Homo sapiens: one gene and its partners. The protein of the gene in region 1 purifies or fractionates together with the protein of each later gene. This does not show direct contact. Each region holds a gene or a part of one and is shown in the gene's direction. Other genes may lie near its edges.

Region 1 (3,657 bases):
CTGGGACTCAAGAGTTAATGAGAAAAGTGGATTCAGCTGCTCAGTTAGGTGTTGTGGAAGTGGATTCGTTGACTTTTCACTGCAGTTTTTCTTTAGGTCTATTCTGCTTAAAAATTATGTTAATTCTTTTTTCTAGGTAGATAATTTCCTAGATTTAGAAGATTTGGACATGGATGAAGAGATTAAACCCCAAATGAGTGAGGGTATGCTTTCTATTTCCTTTCTATACTACCTGACCTCTTTCTAGAAACTACAAATAAGGCTTTAGACAGCTTTCCTGTTTTTGGCAATTCTTACCTCCACCTCTCCTAAGACAGGAAGAACTAAAGTTGTGAGCTATTTTTTTCAGTAACAAAAATTTCACCTGAAAGGTCAAAGCTTTTTGAAGATTGTGAAACCTTTGGTCTTAAATGAAATAAAGATGTGCTCTCCCCCTTAACAATTCATCACAGGATTGATTCTTAGGTAATTGTCTCAAGTGGAGCCATTGTAAGTCAACTCTGTTTCCTAGAGGTACAGTCTTGTAAACTGAAATTATTTTTGAGGGACACATAAAATACCTATTAATCATAAAAATCATAAAAATATCAGAATTGATCACAAAAATAAGGCTGTCTTGCCTGGTATTAAAGGTTACTGAGGCTGAACCAAGTTTCAGTGGATTTGAGTGAACTAATGTCAAGGCCTTCCCACATGTAGAATAAGATGCAAAGCCTAGGCTGAAAATCTATGCAGGCTTCAGTGAACTATTCTAAAGAAAATAAAAGAAAATCCATTTTTTTGCTTTTAAAAATATTTATTATGTAAATTAAACCCTTAATACTAAAGATATATTGTAAATGTTTCTTCTGAGGCATTTTCCACATGGGCTGGATTGAAAAAGGCTTCATGCTAGTCTGTTGATGTTTATTTAGAGGAAAACTTTTTTCTTTCTAGTTAACATTTCTGGATAGGCATAGGTATCCTTTGTTTCTCGAAGGATGTTTGAAATATGTTCAAAATCAGGAAGTTTTTTTTTTTTTTTTTTAAACACTCATTCCTGATTTAACATGCAAGAATATATCAAAGTCAATGCCTAATTTTACAGAAGGGGCAGTTTCCACGGAGGTTTGGTTGTTGATGTTTAACTATTGTTTACTGTCTTTAGGTGGTCATAAACATGTTTTATGGTCATTAGTGTTGGGGGAGGATGGCTTATTTATAATCAGACAGAAGTTAAAGTGACTAGGTAAAGTTGGTTTAGGGATGGTGACTATCTGTACATTGGTTGTATAAACCTCTACTCTAGCTTCTTCAGCTGCTTGAATTTGAGAGGTTTTGGTAATTGGAAGAAATGAACATTTTTATTCTGCTTTCAAGCATCACACTACTCCGTGAAGGGATTGCTTCTCAAGCACACTATTAACCAGCAGATGTTGCAGATTCTTTACTTATTTGGTTTAAGTGAGATCAGAGGTCTAGAGGGATCACATCCTCCAGGGAGAGGTTCTCTAACTTTAATACCCTGAGTGGCTCTGAATTTCTATAATGAGAGCAGCAAAGGGACTCCAGTTGGATTAGAAGGGAGAGCTAAGGACTTGTCAGGAAGCTACATTTGTAGAGGAAGCACACTGTTTTGGGTTTTGGGTGATTTGGGGGAGGGAACCTTGTTAAAAATGCAGATTTCTGGATCTCCCTCCCAATAGAGAATCTAATTCAGAAGGTCTTTGGTGGCATCTGGTGATCTGCATTTTAACCGACACCCCCAATGATTCTAATATAATTAATTTGAGGATAACACGTGGAGACAAATGGTTCTAGTCTGCATGTAATACATATGCAATATAAAATAAATTTCATAAGAGGGCACAAAAGTACATGTTTTGGGTGCTTTTGTGATGGTTTAAATTTTTCACTTCTTACCAGTATGAGAACTCTGTATATTGACATAAACCAACATAGCCAACAGATCTGATTTTTGTTATGTCAATCTTTTTTTTTTTTTGAGATGGAGTCTCACTCTGTCGCCCAGGCTGGAGTGCAATGGCATGATCTCAGCTCACTGCAACCTCTGCCTCTCAGGTTTAAGCAATTCTCCTGCCTCAGCCTCCCAAGTAGCTGGGATTACAGGTGCATGCTGCCATGCCTGGCTAATTTTTATGTATTTTAGTAGAGATAGGGTTTCACTGTGTTGCCCAGGCTGGTCTTGAACTCCTGAGCTCAGGCAATCCACCTGCCTCGGCCACACCCCGCCCCACCGCCCGCCCGAGTGCTAGGATTACAGGTGTGAGCCCCCTCACCCGGCCCGTCAATCTTTTAAATCGCCTTTTTACCTTCTTCAGTATTTTCACATTGTTTTCTTTAAATATTTTTTTCAAGTTACATTTTTCAATTACCAGATTTATTTTAAAATATTGATAAAAACATCTTACTAGTATGATTTTTCCAGAAATCAGATAACAAGCCTTCTTGTATTTGTGTATAAAAGATTACTGAGGCTGAACCAAGACTTGAATGAACTCGTCAAGACCTTCCCACACATAGAATGATGTGTGAAGCCTATGCTGAAAATCAACCTAGGCTTCAGCAATCTATTCTAATTACTGAAAAGGCCACCAGGGCTTTACAATTTTCATAATGCACAATCTGGGTCATTTAAAGGGAAAAGAAATTAAATAGTTGGTGCCAAGGCGAATTTTAGTTTGGGCCTAATTTGTTTTACACTTCAGGAATGTGAGCAGAAGGCAAATATTTATATCAGATGGGAAATGTGACATTTTAAATAGTAAAGTTGCTTGTATAATTTTGGCAGCTGGGAGGTTTACTGATTAGATTCCGTTGTTATTGTTTAAGCAACAGATTTGCTTGGGGCAACAAGGAAGTGGCTTGCATATTGTTTTTCTACCATTGACTTTATTTGTTCACCCCATTCACTCTCATAAATATTCTCTAAGATTTAGGAGCATGATTCTTTTCTAATATTTGTTTTATCACTTGGCAGCCCAGGTGGAAAGATTGGAGATGGTTTTTCAGTGGAGCCAACTCTATTAAGCAATGGTATTAAGCAGTTTTCTGAGGGTAGCGTCTGCCACAGAGTTTGGTGCACTGTGTTTATTTGACATCAAGTTAACCTATTCTTCCTTTTTTGAATTTGAGATAAGGTAGTTAACCTGGTGACTGTCATGCCTCAGACAAACTGGCCCATACTTTTACCCAGCACAATTATTGTTTGGATCAGTTATTAGTTATTGTGCTGAGGACATTAGAATAGGAAGATTTTCTGTTCATCTTTATTTTTATGCTTCCTCGGTGGGCCCAGCCCAACCTCTTTTCTGGTCAAGTGCAAGTAGCTCAAGAGACTTTTTTTTTTTTTTAATCTACTTCTGAGATTCATACTGTCTTACACACATCTCTTGGTCAGCGGGTGTACTTATGGTGTGGCTGATTGTATTGACTGAGAATGGGCACTGATTCCTGCTCAAAGGTTGGCAGCCTTGTTTGATTTTCATTTTCAGGTTCTCCAGTACTGTACTTCTGCCTTAGTCCATTTATGTTGCTGTAAAAGAATACCTGAGGCTGGGTAAAGAAAAGAGGTTTATTTGGCTCATGGTTCTGCAGGCTGTGCAAGAAGCATGGAGCCAGCGTGTGCTTCTGGGGAAGCCAAAGGGGAACCACATG
Region 2 (3,657 bases), on another chromosome or scaffold:
ACACAAGGCTCCTGAAACGAAGGCTTAACGGCTCAAACTGAGGCTGTGTGTGGCGGCTCACTCCTGTAATCCCAGCACTTTGGGAGGCTGAGGCAGGAGAATGACTTGAGCCCAGGAGTTCAAGAGCAGCCTGGGCGACATGGTGAAACCCCATCTCTACAAAAAGGGGAAAAATTAGCCAGGCATGGTGGCTCACACCTGGGGTCCCAGCTGCTTGGGAGGCTGAGGTGGGAGGATCCCTTGAGCCCAGGAGGTTGAGGCTGCAGTGAGATCTGATGGCGCCACTGCACTCCAGCCTGGGTGACAGAGCGAGACCCTGTCTCAAAAGAAAAAAAAAATCTGTCGGTAGCAAAAAGTAACAGTCTCACGCTGTTACTGGCTGTTACTAGCAGTGTCGCAGGAAAGCGACAGACTTACTTTATTTGTGAAGAAATGTCTGCATGTACCCGAGTCTGAATAACCACGATTTCTTTTTCAGGGATTTTCACAAAAAAAGAAAATGGTGTTCCATTTTTTAGTCGCTTATTTTTTAATTTTAGAGACAGCGTGTAGTCACTTTAAAGTGACCAGCTAATCACTTATTCAGCCGCAGTGTTCTAGCGTTTTCCTCATCCCCACCAACATTTGATCATTCTTTCGAACTGTAGCCATCCTAGGGGGTGAACAGTACCTTGCTGAGGTTTAAATTCACATTTTCTGGATGAGTAGTGATGTGCAGCTCCTTCTCATGTGCTTATTATCCATTTACACACCTTCTGTGAAGGCTTCAAGTCTCTTCTCATCATTTTATTGGGTTTTCTTATTATTGTACTTTTTTTTTTTTTTTTTGGAGACGGAGTCTCACTCTGTTGCCCAGGCTGGAGCGCAGTGGCGCGATCTCGGCTCACTGCAAGCTCCGCCTCCTGGGTTCACGCCATTCTCCTGCCTCAGCCTCCCAAGTAGCTGGGACTACAGGTGTGCATCAGCATGCCTGTAGAGATGGGGTTTCACCATTTGGCCAGGCTGGTCTTGAACTCGTGACCTCAAGTGATCCACCCGCCTCCACCTCCCAAAGTGCTGGGATTACAGGCGTGAGCCACCGCGCCTGGCCGAAGTTCCCTTCTATTCCTTTTTTCCTCTGCTTCTGAAATTCCAATGACTTGTATATACAGTACCATCCCCTAGCTCAACTGATGCTCTTCTTTTCTCCCCCAAGGACTTTTTCTGTTTTTCATTTTAGGGATTTGCCATTTCTGTTGCTTCAAGTTTACCAGCTTTCCTTCTGCAGTGTCTCACTCTGATGGTAATCCCATCCATCTTTTTCATGTCAGTTTTCTACCAGTCAACTTTTTCTACCAGTTTTTATTATTGTTACTTTAAACCTTTTTTCCTGCCTTCTTTTTAGTTGATTTTTTTTTTTTTTTTTTTTTGAGACAGAGTGTCGCTCTGTCGCCCAGGCTGGAGTGCGGTGGTGCAATCTCGGCTCACTGCAAGCTCTGCCTCCCGGGTTCACGCCATTCTCCTACCTCAGCCTCCCGAGTAGCTGGGACTACAGGCGCCCGCCACCACGCCCAGATAATTTTTTTGTATTTTTAGTAGAGACAGGGTTTCACCGTGTTAGCCAGGATGGTCTCGATCTCCTGACCTCATGATCCGCCCGCCTCGGCCTCCCAAAGTGCTGGGATTACAGGCGTGAGCCACCGCACCTGGCCTTAGTGGACTATTTTTTATAATTTCATTTTAGCTATCAGCTTTTTATCTCTACTCCTCTTTGCATTGTATTTCTAGTGTTTGCCCTGGAGATTACCATAAACATACTTACCACACTAGAGTTAGCAGGTAGGTCCATTTCCCACCCGTGTCCCCACCTGTATTTGTCGTATGTGTAACATGTACATGTATTATAAACACAGTATAGTGTTATAATTGTTGCTTTCAACAGTCATATGTATTTTGAAGAAATTAAAAGGAAAGAAATAGTCTTTTACATTTACCTACATATTTACCATCCATTTCTGGTGTTTTTTTTTTTTTTTTTTTTTTTTTTTTTTTTTTTTTTTGAGACAGAGTTTTGCTCTTTGTAGCCCAGGCTGGAGTGGGCAACAAACCTCAGCTCACCACAACCTCTACCCTCCAGGTTCAAGTGATTCTCCTGCCTCAGCCTCCGGAGTAGCTGGGATTACAGGCATGCGCCACCACGCCTGGCTAATTTTGTATTTTTAGGGGAGATGGGGTTTCTCCATGTTGGTCAGGCTGGTCTCAAACTCCCAACCTCAGGTGATCTGCCTGCCTCGGCCTCCCAAAGCGTCATTTCTGGTGTTCTTACTTCTTCCCTATGATTCCGATTTGCATGTGGTATCACTCCTCTTCAGCCTGAGCTCCCTTTAACATTTCTTCTAGTTCAGATCTCCTGATGATGAATTTTCTTACTTTTCGTTAATCTGAAATGTATTTATTTTGCCTGTATTCTTCAAGGTTGTTCTCATCAGATAGAGAATTCTGAGGCCAGGCACAGTGGCTCATGCCTGTAATCTCAGCACTTTGGGAGGCCAAGGTGGGAGGATTTCTTGAGGCCAGGAGTTCAAGTCCAGCCTGGGTAACAAGTGAGACCCCATCTCTGAAAAAAATAGCAAGGCATGGTGGCATGCACCTGCAGTCTTGGCTGCTTGGGAGGCTGAGGTGGGAGGACTGCTTGAGCCCAGGAGGTTGAGTCTGCAGTGAGCTGTGATAGCACCACTGCACTCCAGCCTGGGTGACAAAGCAAGATCCTGATTCAAAAAAAATCCTGATTTGACAGATTTTTTTCCTTTCAGCACTTGAATGTTTTCCCTGTCTGGGCCTCCATTGTTTCTGGAAGAGTCAGCTATGGGCTGTCTGTGGGGCCCTTACATGTCATGTGTCTCTCCATCTCCCACTGCACTGGCTGCTGTCATGACTTTCTTCTTGAATTTGTGTTTCAGCAGTGCGATAATGATGTTCCTAGGTGTTTTCATTGTATTTATCCTGGGCTTTTGGGATCTATATTTGTGTTTTGCCAAATTTGGGAAATTTGCTCTTTTTCTCCTTCTGGGACTCCAATTAAATGTTAGGTCTTCCATATCTAGTAGACACACATTTGTGATTACTGCTCATTATTTTCTTTTTTTCTGTCCTTTGGATTAATTTGTATTTATCTAGACTTTCTTTAGCTATCTTCAATCTGCTGTTAACCTCTCCAGCAATCTTTTTAGAGCTTGTATTTTGCAGCCCTAGAATTTACACTTAGTTCTTTTTATTATTTATTGGCTAAAATTCCCTATTTGTTAATTTGTTTAAAATATATTTTATATTTATATCCTAAAGCAGAGTTGTAACTGCTGCTGTAAAATCTTAGCTACCGGTTCCAATATCTGGGTCATGTAGGATTGATCTCCATTACTTGCCTTTTGAGTATGGGTCAAATTTTCCTGTTTCTTATGTCTAGTCATTTTTTTGTATCATGGACATTGTGGATAATCCATTGTAGAGACTCTGGATTCTGTTACATTCCTCCAAAGAGTATTGCTTTTTTTTGGTTCATTTTATTAGGCAATCACCTTTGCTCAGCTCAGAGCCGAAACTCTTTCCCCTGTGGTGGATAGCAGCTGAAATCCCTGCTTGTAGCGTGAGTTGGCTTAAAGTCTGCACCTCCCCTGCCTC
Region 3 (2,939 bases), on another chromosome or scaffold:
CTGAATTTAGGTCTACAATTTTGTTACTTGTTTTTTATTTGTCCTATCCACTTTTTGTTCAGTTCCTCTTGTCTTGCCTTCTATTTGACTAAATATTTTTTCGTATTTCATTTGATTCTTCTATTGACTTTTTACCTATGTTTTTACAAAATTTTGTACTTGATTAATATCCTATTATATATATACACACACACACAAATATACATATGTACACATTATAAATCCTGTAATACAATGATATAATTTTTCTTTAGTTGTGTCTTTTTAAAGGAAATTATAAAGAAAAAAATACAATGTAGCTTTACATTTACCCACATTTATAATTTCCATGTTATTCTTGCCTGAATCCAAGTTTCCATATGGTATTATTTCCTTTCAGCCTGAAGTACTTCCTTTGACATTTCTTACATGTGCAGGTTTGCTGGTGACTTCTTCTCTGTCTTTATTTTCCTTCATTTTTGAGGATATTTTCGCTTGATATGGAATTCTGAGGTTTTCTTAAAGCACTTTCACGATTGTCTCCAGTATCAAACTTCATTGTTCCCCTGCATTTACTGGTTTCTTTCTGGCTACATTCAAGGAATTCTCTATTTTTGGTTTCCAGAATTTTGACTATACTTGCCTGGGTGTGGTTTTTAAATTTTTTTAACTTGGGATTTTCTAGAATTCTCGAATCTGTATGTTTATATTTTTCCCTCAATTGGGACATTTTGAGACATTATTTCTTCAATCACTTTTTCTATCCCTTTCTGTCTTCTCATTCTGGAACTCCAGTAATATCTGTGTTTGACTACTTGATGTCAAGGTCACTAAAGTTCTTTCCTCTGTCATCTTTTTTTTCTGTTCATATTGGATAATTAGTTTTGATCTATATTCTAGTTCACTGACCTTTCTTCTAAGTAAGTAAAAAAAATTTTTTTTTTTTTTTTTTTTTTTTTGAGACAGGATCTCACTCTGCTGCCTGGGCTGGGGTGCAGTGCCACAATCATCGTTCACTGCAGCCTCAAACTCCTGGGCTCAAATGATCTTCCTGCCTCAGCCTTGCAAGTAGCTATGACTACAGGCATGTGCCACCATACCCAGCTTTTTTTTTTCTTTTTTTTAGACATGGGGTCTCACTATGTTGCCCAGGCTGGTCTTGAACTCCTGGACTCAAGTGATCCTCCCACCTCAGCCTCCCAAAGAAGTGTTGGGATTACAGCTGTGAACCACCATTCCTGGCTTTCTAAAAAAAAAAAAAAAAAAAAAATTCAGATTTTGTCCCAAGTTTATAACTGTTATCTATGGGAAAATTAAACTGCAAGTGGAACCTTGTATTTTTAAAAAACATCCACAGAATCTCTCCAAACACTATCAATCAATCATGGCATTAGATTATGCTTTATACAAAACTTCAAGTAACCAGACCATGGTACATCATAGCTCCTTGCAGATATGTCTTCATTGAGTTATGATTATGCACTATCCTTCAGAAACGTCACTATAGCCAGGCGCAGAACCTGTGGCCATAGTCGCAGCTACTCAGGAGGCTGAGGCATGAGGATCACTTGAGCCCAGGAGCTCAGGGCTCTAGGAGACTATAATCATGCCTATGAACAGCCACTGTACTCCAGCCTGGGCAATGTAACAAGACCCCATCATCTCCTAGGAAAAAAAAAAAGACACACACAAAGTCACTGTAAGCATCCTTATACAGTGAATACTGGTTGAAGCTGTTGTTCACTGGCGTTTAGACAAATATAACTGTTTAATTTCAGGAAAATTTTTTCTCTACAAATTGCTGAGCACTTTGCATTTGTTCTTCCCAGTGAGATGGCTGTTATCATCAGCATCCTTACTTCATTACAAAGGCTCAAGAGCTTACCCACACAATTTTAGTCAGTTGGCAAGGCTAATACTGAAACTTGATGCGGATTACAGTCTAGAGATTTCTAACTTGAATGTTTCCTGTTCCACATTCTAGAAACAGGCAAAAAAAAATTCTTTTTAGTATGTTTGGCTTTATTACTAAATGCCAGCCATTACTTGAAACCCTTCTAGAGGCATGTGTTCTGTTTGTCCTTTCTAGATACAATGCTCCTGAGAAGACAGCATTTTCCACAGGAGGCTGTTTCCTCCCCTGGTGGATTTAAGAGACGGTCCTTTCTGGATACAGAGAAATGAAACAACGGTGACCTCTCCAGGTCGGCACTTTCCACTTCTGTACGGTGGCAAAACGATGACATGTAACCTTGCTGTTTATTGTACTTTGTATATTATTTCCTCTTCAAAGTCTTTCTTACACACTCTATCCTCTGCACTGTTAATAGTAACCTATGACATAATTGTAAATATTCAGCTTTTTGCTAACTTTTGTATTTTGAAAAACTTTAAAATAAAATTGTTGACTAGATATCTGTGACGTTTTTCTGGATTTGGAGACAGAAAAAGAGATAAAGGTAGTTCTGAAGGACATTGTCAAGTTTGAACACAGATGTGAATGGTGTAAAAAGCTTGAAATGAAAAGCTGTTGTTTATACAAATCACAGCTATTAAGCAGAATCAATCAGCCCAGAAGCAAAACATCAAAAATTAGGAAAACCAATCTTGTAAAGAATGAATGAAACTATCAGCTTATATCTATCTGCCGAGTCATTCTACTGCATACTACAGAATTCCCGTCACAAAATTAAGTCATTTGACTTCCCCTGAAAACATACATTGTTTGTTTGGAATCATCTTCTCTGAGGCTGTGTGAAGGTTCTTTTTCCCCATATCACACATACAACACACACCATCTGTACACACACACACACTCTCTCTTGCTCCAAGGGAGTACATACTTCTTCTTCTTTTCCCACATCAGTATATGCTTCCTTGCCATCCAAGGCCAGTCACCAAAGTCTGAGCAGCTGACAGAAATGAGTCAGGGAGTCAACTGTGAATGAATCCGATGATAT

Evidence for each region.
Region 2: the proteins of IFTAP (region 1) and IFT140 purify together in Homo sapiens (affinity purification with mass spectrometry; 3 studies listed by BioGRID and IntAct, with this or other methods). This does not show direct contact.
Region 3: the proteins of IFTAP (region 1) and WDR19 purify together in Homo sapiens (affinity purification with mass spectrometry; 3 studies listed by BioGRID and IntAct, with this or other methods). This does not show direct contact.

The regions. Positions count from the first base shown.
Region 1 is NC_000011.10:36,635,915-36,639,571, forward strand, and holds part of IFTAP (intraflagellar transport-associated protein), read left to right. Parts: intron 1-136; coding exon 137-203; intron 204-3,657. UniProt on the Homo sapiens protein: Seems to play a role in ciliary BBSome localization, maybe through interaction with IFT-A complex.
Region 2 is NC_000016.10:1,514,522-1,518,178, reverse strand, and holds part of IFT140 (intraflagellar transport protein 140 homolog), read left to right. Parts: intron 1-3,657. UniProt on the Homo sapiens protein: Component of the IFT complex A (IFT-A), a complex required for retrograde ciliary transport and entry into cilia of G protein-coupled receptors (GPCRs).
Region 3 is NC_000004.12:39,283,419-39,286,357, forward strand, and holds the end of WDR19 (WD repeat-containing protein 19), read left to right. Parts: intron 1-2,068; 3' UTR 2,069-2,392; downstream 2,393-2,939. UniProt on the Homo sapiens protein: As component of the IFT complex A (IFT-A), a complex required for retrograde ciliary transport and entry into cilia of G protein-coupled receptors (GPCRs), it is involved in cilia function and/or assembly.